Homo sapiens: one gene and its partners. The protein of the gene in region 1 purifies or fractionates together with the protein of each later gene. This does not show direct contact. Each region holds a gene or a part of one and is shown in the gene's direction. Other genes may lie near its edges.

What was found.
Region 2: the proteins of PATL1 (region 1) and NBDY purify together in Homo sapiens (co-immunoprecipitation; one study listed by IntAct). This does not show direct contact.
Region 3: the proteins of PATL1 (region 1) and XRN1 purify together in Homo sapiens (co-immunoprecipitation; one large-scale study listed by IntAct). This does not show direct contact.

The regions. Positions count from the first base shown.
Region 1 is NC_000011.10:59,655,386-59,659,037, reverse strand, and holds part of PATL1 (protein PAT1 homolog 1), read left to right. Parts: intron 1-91; coding exon 92-172; intron 173-1,313; coding exon 1,314-1,508; intron 1,509-2,437; coding exon 2,438-2,539; intron 2,540-2,992; coding exon 2,993-3,082; intron 3,083-3,297; coding exon 3,298-3,515; intron 3,516-3,652. UniProt on the Homo sapiens protein: RNA-binding protein involved in deadenylation-dependent decapping of mRNAs, leading to the degradation of mRNAs. Acts as a scaffold protein that connects deadenylation and decapping machinery.
Region 2 is NC_000023.11:56,815,432-56,819,702, forward strand, and holds the end of NBDY (negative regulator of P-body association), read left to right. Parts: intron 1-1,888; 3' UTR 1,889-3,748; downstream 3,749-4,271. UniProt on the Homo sapiens protein: Promotes dispersal of P-body components and is likely to play a role in the mRNA decapping process.
Region 3 is NC_000003.12:142,445,144-142,449,260, reverse strand, and holds the start of XRN1 (5'-3' exoribonuclease 1), read left to right. Parts: upstream 1-1,223; 5' UTR 1,224-1,316; coding exon 1,317-1,391; intron 1,392-4,117. UniProt on the Homo sapiens protein: Major 5'-3' exoribonuclease involved in mRNA decay. Required for the 5'-3'-processing of the G4 tetraplex-containing DNA and RNA substrates. The kinetic of hydrolysis is faster for G4 RNA tetraplex than for G4 DNA tetraplex and monomeric RNA tetraplex.

The DNA.
Region 1 (3,652 bases):
GGCTCTTTTGGAACCTTGTTCCCCAGCAGCAGATAAGTCACCCAGAGAGTATACAACATTTCAGACTCTGTATGTTTTCCTTTTTTGTTAGCCCCAACCAGGAAGTCTGAATTCCAGTATCTGGGATGGATCTGAAGTTCTGAGGCGAATCCGAGGACCACTGCTTGCTCAGGTATTAAATATTTTCTCTTTACATAAAATTTATAATATCCAAAAATTTTAAGTTCCTGTCGTCATCCTTTCCTTACTGAAGGGGTTTATAGGTCTTTCATTTGCTAGAATTATGTCGACTACTGCATCCAGCACTTAGCTATGCCTTTCTTTAGCCTCCAGGGTAAAGGTTGCAAGGGAGCCATTGGAATTTAAATTTGTTAGTGTATGATTGTGATTTGAATCACTTAAAAAGTCATATCTGAGCCAGGCGTGGTGGCTCACGCGTGTAATCCCAGCACTTTGAGAGGCTGAGACAGGTGGATCACTTGAGGTGAGGAGTTCAAGACCAGCCTGGCCAACATGGTGAAACCCCATCCTTACTAAAAATACAAAAATTAACCAGGCGTGGTGGTGGGCACCTGTAATCCCAGCTACTCAGGAGGCTGAGGCAGGAGAATCACTTGAACCTGGGAGGCAGGGCGGAAGTTGTAGTAAGGCAAGATTGCGCCACTGCACTCCAGCCTGGGCAACAGAGTGAGACTCTGTCTCAAAAAAAAAAAAAACTCATTTCTATGCAAAACTATAGGGACAGAGAGGTCATCAGTGTTTACTAGTGGTTGGACATGGCAGGAGGCGTTAACTACAAAGGAACAATACAATGGAATTTCTGGGGAGTGATGCAACTGTTCTTGCTCTCTCTTTCTTTCTTTTTTTTTTTTTTGAGACCAGGTCTTGCTGTGTCAACCAGGCTAGAGTGCACTGGTACAGTCATAGCTCTCTGTAACCTTGAACTTCCGGGCTCAAGTGATCCTCCCACCTCGGCCTCTTGAGTAGCTGAGACTACAGGTGCATGCCACCATGCCTGGCTTAGTTTTTTTATTTTTGTATAGATGAAGTCTCGCTGTGTTGCCCAGGCTAGTCTCAAACTCCTGGCTTCAAGTGATCCTCCCACCTCACCCTCCCAAGGCGCTGGGATTTCAGGCATGAGCCGCTTACCAAACTCAGAGAACCATATACCAAAAAGTGAATTTTACTATATGTGAATTAAAAATAAATAAAAAGTTAAAAAAATTTCTTAAGGTATTTTTGGCATCTGTAGAGATTACTAAAACATACCAAGTTAGTTAATTTCTATTTTATTTTACCACTTCCTCAATTAGGAAATGCCTACAGTGTCTGTATTAGAATATGCTTTGCCTCAGAGGCCCCCCCAGGGTCCAGAAGATGATCGGGACCTTTCTGAACGAGCATTACCAAGGCGGTCAACTTCACCTATCATTGGCAGTCCTCCTGTTAGAGCTGTCCCCATAGGCACCCCACCTAAACAGATGGCTGTACCCAGCTTCACCCAACAGGTACCTCTCATTAACAAGCACACAGCCCAGGATATTGGGAATCTGGGCAAAATTATTTGGAAAATTGGTGATGTTGGGTGGAGGGTGGAAATTTTGGGTAGGCATTAGATTAGAAAGAAAAATAGCTAGTTAGAGGAGAAATTAGTACAAATAAGAGACACATTCCCTGATACCCTTTGCTGCTGCTATTGCTGCTGCCTTTTAATTGGGGGAGAAAAAAGGGTAGTTAGCCACATTTAGCACATATATCCTTTTTGAAGTGTTTTGCTGGCTGCCCAAAACATTGTCAGAGAGATAACTGAAAGCCGGGGGGAGTGGGAACACACAGCATTGTCCACATCCCTTTTTACCTTTAAGATATCCCTGCTTTCCCTAGAGCCTGTGCAGTCCTGTTCCATAGACTTTCCTCCACCTGAAACCAGCAGCTGAAAAGGAAGGCCAATTTGGAAGGTATGGGGGGAGGGTGGTGTTGGTATGGCCTAGTTAGGCTCAAATCCTATGAAATGGTGGAGTCACAATGTATCACAAAAGTGCTGAGCATGGCGGCCATATCACAGGGGCTTCAGAATAGGACTTAGTTAATCCTCCAGCTTTCTTATCATTCCTTCTCCCTCAGTGCTACCAAAATATATCCTCTTGGAGAGAATTTGCAAGTCAGAATATCTGCTGGTATCTCCCTCAGACAGCATGGAAGGGTGGGGATAACTGGAGAATTAGCTAAATCTTCCTCAGTTAATGCTGACACTTTACTTGATTTGTGAGAGAAAGTGGCCCAAGGTTCTGTATTTGAACCTGTAGCCATAGCAATTTGCTTAGAAGTAGGGCTTTGCATTGAGTTCGTGTCTCTACCAGTACTTGAGGGGAGGGAGTGTAGGTGGAAGAAAAACTGATTTCATTGAGTGTAGTTGTATATATGTTTGTCCTGATAGATTCTGTGTCCGAAGCCTGTCCATGTTCGGCCCCCAATGCCACCTCGTTATCCTGCTCCCTATGGTGAGAGGATGTCTCCAAACCAGCTCTGCAGTGTCCCGGTATGTCACTTTAAGCCTAACAAAAATGTGCAGTATGTATTTTCTGATCACTATTTGTAAGATCACTGCCAGTATTTAGATTTGCTGACATCTCCTAAATTATACCTATTTTTTATAATCTCCTTACTTAAATTGCTGGATCTAATTGTCCCCAGGTCAGAGGACAGTTGTTTCTTACATCAGCTCTTTTCTTACCTTTAAAAATCTAAACTCATTGTGATCATCTGGTTCCTACCATTTCAGTCCCATGTTCTACTGCTTCTTTTTCATGTCACATGGTCATGGTGTTTTTATAATTTCTAGCATTACTCTTTTTTTCTATTCCAGAGCTTGACTCTGTAATTTGAGAGTTTTTATATCCAAGTTTATACTGCATTTCTGCTGAGTTTCCTTATTATGATGTACCCCCTGTTTTATAGCATATTCTTTTTTTTTTTTTTTTTTTTACCTTAGAACTCTTCCCTCCTGGGTCACCCTTTTCCTCCTAGTGTTCCTCCTGTTCTCAGCCCCCTCCAGAGAGCACAGCTTCTTGGAGGAGCACAGGTAAGCCTGTGATTAGCCCTACCCATAAAGAACTCTCCTACTTTCCTAAAGTTCATTAGATAATAGCCCCTTTTTTTGCTGTTAATCACTACTTTTATTTTTGCCTTTACTTTTTCAAACAAAGTTATTGATGGAAAACCGTATTCACTTTTCTGTAGACAAAAGCAAGGGGACTTGCTGATTGTCTAAATCTAAGATCTTCTTCCTCTTTGTAGCTACAGCCTGGACGGATGTCTCCCAGCCAGTTTGCACGGGTCCCTGGATTTGTTGGTAGTCCACTTGCTGCCATGAATCCCAAGTTGCTACAAGGGCGAGTTGGGCAGATGCTTCCCCCAGCACCAGGCTTCCGTGCCTTCTTTAGTGCTCCACCCTCCGCTACACCACCTCCACAGCAGCACCCTCCTGGCCCAGGACCCCACCTGCAAAACCTAAGGTATACAAAATCAACGCCACTGTTTATCAGTTATCAGCCAAGTCTCTTGATTGTGGATGTGTAGTTTTATAAGTCTCTTGATATTTGCTAACTATAAATTTTAAGATGTTATTGGATCCTCAAGTTGGCAAACATGG
Region 2 (4,271 bases), on another chromosome or scaffold:
CTATGTTTTCTTTATCATTTATAGAAATTTAAAGTATGATAACAGGTATTTCTTGTTGAGGTGATTAGCTTGTCTCTCATACATTGGTGTTTGGAGAATTGTTTACTGAAACATTTGAAATGGTAATCCACAAATTGTTTAACTTTTTTATTATACCATCTGAGAATATGTTTGCATATTTGTGAAAACAATTGGAAACTGTCTCAGTTATGTTCATTTTGAGAATTACTATGTTTTGGTGGACACATTTGCTGGAATTTTGTGCAGATATTTTTAAAATATTTAAGTTTATGTGGTTACTATGAGATATTATTAAATAAATAAAACATGTTCGGAGTAATGTGTATAATACAAACTCATTTTTTGTAACAACAAACAGAAAGAGTTACATGTTGGTAAGTATATGTGTCTTTGATTGGTTATGGAAAAAATTATTAGGCATTTATTCCATACTTTTAACATCTTTTAACCTCCACAGATTTAGAATTGTTTTTCTGGAAGAAATTGTTAATCTTCTCTTTTATACATTTCATGTTGTTTTCCTCATTTTAATGCCTTCGTATTATATTTCTAAATATAATTTTCTTTTATAAAACATGCAAATTTTATACGAAGAAAAACAGCATAAGTAAACTTAAAGACTATTTATATACAATGTGGTTCCATTTAAAAGATAGATAATGGATGCCATTAATTCATAGAATATATAATACATTTCTTTATGTTAATACAGAAACAAAGCCTGATAGAAATATAGTCAAAGAACAGGCAATTCATAGGAGACAAAAATATATGGCCAATAATAATAATAAATATAGTTGACTTTAATATTAGGTCATCATATTTGCCACAATCAAAAAAGTCTCCAGAATTCTCAGTTTTAGAAAGGATTTGGTTAAATATCTACTGTCTATAAAATTGTACGTTTCTAAAGTATTTTATCTCTATCGTAATTTTAATGTTTGTAAGTTTTGACTTGTGTTTTATTTGTAGAATATATGGAAATAATTCTACATATCAATAAATTGGCTTGCTTGTAGTAAAAATGTTGCAAGCATATTAAATATCTTTCAACAGAATTTGAACATCTTTCAACAGTTAAAATTATACTGTAACACGATGCAATATTTTGAAGCCATTGAAATATTGAGACTGATCTATTTTTATATTAAAAATTATTAAGACATTTATAAGTGAATAAAAACAAATTGCCGAAGTGTATGCTAGGATGATCTAATTTATATTATAAACTCCAAATCTAAATTATTATATTATTATAAATACTATATATGTGTACATTTAAATAGAAATAAAAAGGTCTAGACAGAATTGATAACTATGTTTTCTTCTGTAAATAGGAGAAAGACTGAGGAATGGTAAAAGTTTAGCAGTAAGAAGAATTATGTCTATGTTGTTTGAATTATATACAGTTAGATTGTATTCATGTATTTATTCATGTATTATTTGTGTAAATAAATAAATAAATATAAAATTTCCAAGGAATATAGGAGTTTGTCAAGGGGCTATGAGGGAACAATGAGGCTGATTGATTAGTTTTGGAAGCCTAATAAAACAAGAGTAATAGCGGTAGACATCCCTGTACTTTTTGGGGGAGAAATATGCCTAAGATAATAGAAACATCTGGTCCACCTAACAGATAAATTATTTTGCATTCAAATACATTAGATACCAAAAAGATGCAGGTTATTGACATTGTATGCCTTTGATTTAATATTTATTAAGCACTCATCTAATAATTTTGCATTCTCTTTAACTTGCTTAATAGGGAAATTGGGGTGTTTTCTGCTCAACAGACATATCTGACCTGTATGATAATGGAATTTCTCATTATAAGTCAATAAACTTTTGTTCTTTCTGTATCTTTCAGTCTTATGATGTAATCAGCGCGATTTCACTTCCTGAATTTCGATGAATTCTAAGACATGGGCAAGATCGGGTTGTAAGACCTCTGAGATTTAAGGCCATGCCCTGGATCATGGTGAACTTACCAAAGCAAACAATGCCTGTGAGATGGTCCTGCAGCAGCCAACCAGTGAACTCTTTTGGTGACATCCTGTTCTTGTTGTATAACTTTATATTCCTATAAATCCATTAAGGCCCCAATAAAGTTTGTCTCTAAGCGCTGTGTTAGATCTATATGACTACATCTAGTAAATTGTGAATTTTAAGTAAATATTTTATAAGAACTCCTATGTAAAGCATTACTAAAATTAGTGTTGAAATATGACCTTCTTCCTACATTTATTCATTTATTTATGTCTATTTATTCATTTATTTTAGTGAAAAATATAAGGAAAGTAGAGGAAGGTTAAATCCAAAAAAGAATTGTTTCCAGTACACTTTCTTTAATTTGCTGTCAGTTTTTGCATGGAATCTACATCTTTTTATGCTAATCCTCATCCTAGTATTTTACATCTTAACTATTTTTTTCTGACTGAAATGGTTGATGTGCTTGTTTTTTGTAATTTTCTACTTTCCTTCTAAAATGCTTAGTATTGAACAAATAGAATATCCTAATTAAAAACAGTAATAAATATTATGGTGAAAAAATACAAGTAAAATGGGAAAACATTAGATAGCAGCTTTCAATATTTCATATAGTTCATAAATGTTTCAGGAATTACAAGGTTATAGAAAAAAATTTATAGACTATAATAATTTCCAGGGATATAAAAAAATAAAGCTTCTACCTTTGAATTGTAATAATAAAAGATAAACAGACTTGAAAGCATATATTATATCTGAAAATGTCAGATAAACTTGGCTTATAAATTAAAATATAAAATAATAATACAATTTGTTCAAATAAGTAATTAAAGCTTACATTGTAAAATGAATATTTAGAGAGATTGTGAAACCTGAGTATTTTACCCAATCCTCTGAAATTAGTCCCTAGCATCAGAATTAAAGAATCTGAAAAATCACAAATGGAGGTATGGTGACATTTATGTATATTCTAGAGTTATGTTATGCACACTTAATAAATTATAGACAGTTATTTTAAAGATTGTATAATATTACTAATCACACATTAGAGTTTTAAAACTTCTGAGCCAGGCTGAACATCACAAACAGTAAACACAGACTTCTTTAAAAGGACATCTGGTGAAAGGCATTTTATGCATCAGAAGGCACAGTATTATAAAGATGACAACACTCTTCAAAATAATCAAACTATTCAATGCAACCCTTATCAAAATTAAGGTTGCCTACTTTGAAGAAATTTATAACCTGATTCTAAAGTTCATATGAAAATGTAATGGACCCAGAATAGCCAAAACAATCTTGAAGTATACAAAGTTTGAAGAGTCACATTTCCAAATTTTAAAACTTATTACAAAGCTACAATAAACAAGTCTATGTGGTACTGGCATAGGATATAAATATTGATCAATGAAATAGAATCCAAAGTCCAGACATAAGCCCTCACAAAAGTTAATTTGCAGCCAATTAACTTCTGAGAAGGAGGCAAGACAAAAGGGGAAATAACTATTTTCAATAAATGGTACTGGGACAACTTGGTATCTACATGCAAAAAAAAAACAAAAAAACAAAAAACTTCCACCCCTACCTCATGCAAAATACAAAAATTAACTCAAAATAGGCCAAAGACTCAAATATAAGGGTTACACTATAAAACTCTTGGGAGGAAATATAGAATAAATTTTTGTGACCTTGAATTAAGTATTAGATTTTTAATTCTTACACCAAAGCACAAGTTAATAAAGGAAAAAAAAGATAAACTGGACATAATTAAAATTGAAAAAAAATTTGCTTCAGTGAACACAGTCAAGAAATTTGAAAGACAGCCACAGTGCAAGATTATTTTTGCAAATAATATGTCTCATAAATGACTTGTATCTAAAATATATAAGACCAGGCATGGTGGCTCATCCTGTAATCCCAGCACTTTGGGAGGCTGAGGCAGGGGGATCACTTGAGGTCAGGAGTTTGACACCAGCCTGGCCAACATGATGAAACCCCATCTTTACTAAAAATACACACACAAAAAAAATTAGCAGGGTGTGGTGGTGTATGCCTGTAATCTTAGCTACTCAGGAGGCTGAGGTGGGAGGATAGCTTGAACCTGGGAGGCAGAGGTTGCAGTGAGCCAAAATTGCACCAATGCACACTCCAGCCTAAGCAACAGGGCAAGACGCCATCTCAAAAAATAAAACAAAATAATAAAATAAAATAAACAGTAATTACCGCTAAATAATAAAACAAACAATAAACCAATTTTATAACGA
Region 3 (4,117 bases), on another chromosome or scaffold:
AAGAAATAAACTGCTTTCTTAATACATACTGTGCATTATAATTGGAGAAATAGAATATCATGTGTTCTTATGGTCAAAAACTATATTTGCAAGAAACAAGCAAGTCTAATTTCATTTTACAACTTCTATTGATTTCCTTTTAAAAGTCCTAGCTATTGTAAGGATTCACTTGAAGAACAAAATTATATGGAATAAATACTGTGGGCAAGGCGTTGTGCCAGACTTGTGCATAGAGCTACCCTCTCCTGCCCTCCAGGAAGTGACAGTCTAGTAAGAGAGATATATAAATATAAATAGCATATCATTAAGTTCACTTAATAAAACTTTGTTTTAAAGTGTGATAGGGAAAAAATATAAGCCAAGAAGCGTGAATGTGAAAACGAAATAAACATTCTGTAATTTGTGTGATGCTGCCATACTGCAGTCCCAGAATGCAGAATCCAGTGGTCATGAAAGACAGCGATACTTAACATTTCCTGAGATCTTAAAATCCAAAAAGTATTAAATGTTTAAGGTTTTTCTGTAAGTTTTCATCCAGAAGACTTAAATACAAAGTAACGGGTTAATACATTCAAATAAGTGGAAAACTCTTACATTTAAAACTGATAATTTCACTTAAGTTGATAGAACTCTCCTTTGCTGTGCGGTTGAAAGTGTGATGGGGAAAAATATGATAAACCCGGATGCAAGAATGTCAAAACTAAACATTAAATGATTTCGTATCCAAGGTCTTATGTTAACAGTTGCGGGGGGCGGGTACATGGGAAATTTTTTTGAACAATTTGGAAAAGAACGTTTTTAAACGTATGTATTAAGAAACGTAAGTTTAAATTCCTCAGAGAAAAAAAATTATTGACAAAACAACAAACTAAGCCAAGTAAATCACCAGATCTTTCGAAATCTGAATGAAAAATACTGAGATTAGCAACCCTAGGAGACAAGCGGAACAAAAATCAGTGTTCGATACCCTTCCCACACCTTCGTACGGTTTTCATGCCACTTCCAAATCCACTTAGAAAGCACAACTCTATCATGGGGCATTTTCGCCCCTAAGTTGCAACACACCAGCAAACCTCCGCAGATTCCCTGACCGCCACTGGACAGTACCGCGGCCCCGGCCGCGCGAGGCCCGGAGGGCTAAGCCCCGCCCCTCGGACGGCCTCGGATCCTGCCGCTCTAGGCCCGCCGGGCGCTCTCTATGGTCGGCCGGGCGGTGTGTTGTCATCCGCGGAGCGACGACCGGAGGCTGCGGCGGAGCCCCGGCGGGGCGTTTGGTTTCGGTTTGGCCCTGACTGGGATTAGTGTTGACGATCGAAATGGGAGTCCCCAAGTTTTACAGATGGATCTCAGAGCGGTATCCCTGTCTCAGCGAAGTGGTGAAAGAGCATCAGGTGGGTGAGCGAGGGGCAACGGCTCAGAAAGCCGAGGACCCGGGGCTCCGCGGCCCTCTCCACCTTAGAGCTGGGGCTTTCGAGCCACCTCTTTCCCCTCGTCGTCTGGACGATTAGTGGCATTAGGGAGGGGGACGGAAGGTTTGAGGACGCCCGGATGAGCCGAAAGGGGCTAAGGACGCAGGTTGCCTGTGTGTGGACAGAGCCGCTGGGTTCACGGCTTCTCTGACAGCTCTTGCTTCTGCTGGTCCTTCCGCGACTCCGAAATGAAGTCCTGGGAAAGAACGCTTTTACTGTTCTCCGGTTTCCTCCCGGGGAGCTGCAAGTTGCCTTTTTCCTTACAGAGGCTGCGAAGCTGGAGTGGGTGTCCTCGTAGGTTCCCCCATCCCACCCAGAGCGGCAGACCCACTTACAGACGATAACAGCCGCTTCCGCACGCAGTCACCTTGTTTACTTTCCCTGATCTAGAGCGCGGCCCACCCGGCCCCCGGAGCCTAGACTTTCCGACGTGGCTGATGGTCATATTGGTGATGCCTTTTGTTACTTTCTGTTATTTCAAAAGCAGCACCAATCCCCTGTTGCCAAAACAAAAAACTCTTGGGCCAGCTGGGGAGTGGGGCGTAGGACCTTTTATTTGGAGGCCTCACTGTGTGACAGAGGGGGTTGGGAAACGAATTGATAGAACATTAATACTACTAATAATATTTGGCATGTACTGACCCCAGGACAACGTTAATGTGTAGATTCCGAAAACGTAGTTTATATATTGGAACTGTGGAAAGAGAGGAGAAAGCAGTCGTCTATTAGGTAAACTAGACTTTGGGTGATACTTTGGTGTTTGTCACATTTAATGAATTTGATCTCTTTTCTGATGCTTTACAGAAAAAAAGCTTGAAATTTGTGTAGCTGATTGAATCAGTTGTGATGGGTAGTATTGTAAATAGCCTATTAAATTATGGTTTAATCGGCATTTACGAACATGAAGGTAGTTTACTTCTGGAAAGGAGTTTTTGTTGCTGGATTCCAATCAGATTTGGTAGATGAGAAATAGACTACAAAAAGTTTCCAAGGTTAGCTTATCTTGAATTTATTTGAAACATAGATTGAGTTAGGTTTAGAGAGGTATTTTTTTCCCCCGGGGAGGGCTAAAAAGGAAACCAGTACATTGCAGAAATGGAGACAACCAACTTTGGCTTTTCTTGCATCCTTCAGTCAGTACCTGCTATATATCAGTCACTTTATCTCTAAAGTGCAAAAATAATGCGATTGTTATTCGTGATGATTTAATACATAATTTGTTCAGTAATATTTTTATTCTGTAGTCTGTGGCACAGAATTTGGTTTGGTGAAAATATCTTAGATTCTCTCCATCCTGAGGAATTTTGTTACTGAAGAATGAAAATCTCTTTAATGCAGTTTTATGACATGGACACTAAGGATAGGTTTTGTGAAAGCTTTATATAGAAACTGGGAGGAGAATTATTTTTAAATTTCACTGTAAATAAATTTTAAAATTTGGTTCATTGTTGTGATACCTTTCAAAAATGTTTGATTAAAAAGAGACCAAAGGTTATCAGCTTCTCTGTTAAGTAGAACTTAAAGATGGTAATGCCTAAATAAGTCACAGGCATTCAAAAGCTAGTCCTGGGCGGGAAGGATAGGGAGAAGAAGTAAGTTACGGGAAGTCAGTGGTGTGGCCTCAGTAGCATAGGTTTTCAGTTTCTCTGAATCATCTTGTAAAAACAGAAAGAGAAACTAGAAACCAAAGTTTAAAATCCATAAAACAATTACAACAAACCATGTGACATGCTATCCCCATGAAACTCAAAACATAACTAGGTGAGGCAAACTATCAATAGTCTCTAGACACCGTTGATATTGCCATCTGTGCAAAAGCGAGAAGGAAGCAATGGGGCAACATCTGATGAACCTTAGAACAGAATTCCAGAATAGCCAGCGGTATCCACTAAAAGACTGTGCTGGCCAATTAGATAGCGGTAGCTGAAACAGAGGAGTTTTATTCACTCCATTATTGACTGGGTGAAGGTCTACCATAAGAAAGACCAAACAGGCAGGAGTAGTCTACCTCCTGTGAACACTCAAAACTGACTTGCCAAGGTGCCATTCTAGACCAGAGCCCTAAGGAAAAGGGAGTGGAATAAAGTCTTACGGAAATGTTATGCTGGAAGTGGAATAAAATTTTATGAAAGGGACAATAGAGACAAGAAGAGAAGGAGATAGACCATATAAAAGTGAGGCAAAGTCATAGAATCAAGAAATCTTAGAAAACAAACCACAAAGCAAACCACTGTATTTTTTAACACTACCCAGAAACAGCTTTGTGAACTTATATTCCCTGAACCTCTACTCATTCTAAAAGTTCAAGAAAATTAAATTCACATAAAAATGAGCTACAGAAAGGTATTGAGATCAAATTACATACAAAGTTATTATACGAGAAAAAGGGACAGAGTATCTCTCCAGACATAAAAACTTGCAATGAAAAAAATGCACACAAAATAGACCAAAATTATAACCAAAACTATTATCTATTTCACAATGAGTTAAAAGGCATTAAGAAAATGAGGTAAGACATGAAAGAACAACGTGTATCAATTATGAAAATGTGAGAATGAGATGACAGAGAAAGTTAGAAGTAAATGAAAAAAAAATGCAGAGCTGAGCCTCAAATAGAAGCAAGACGAGCAAATGATACCATTTGAGAA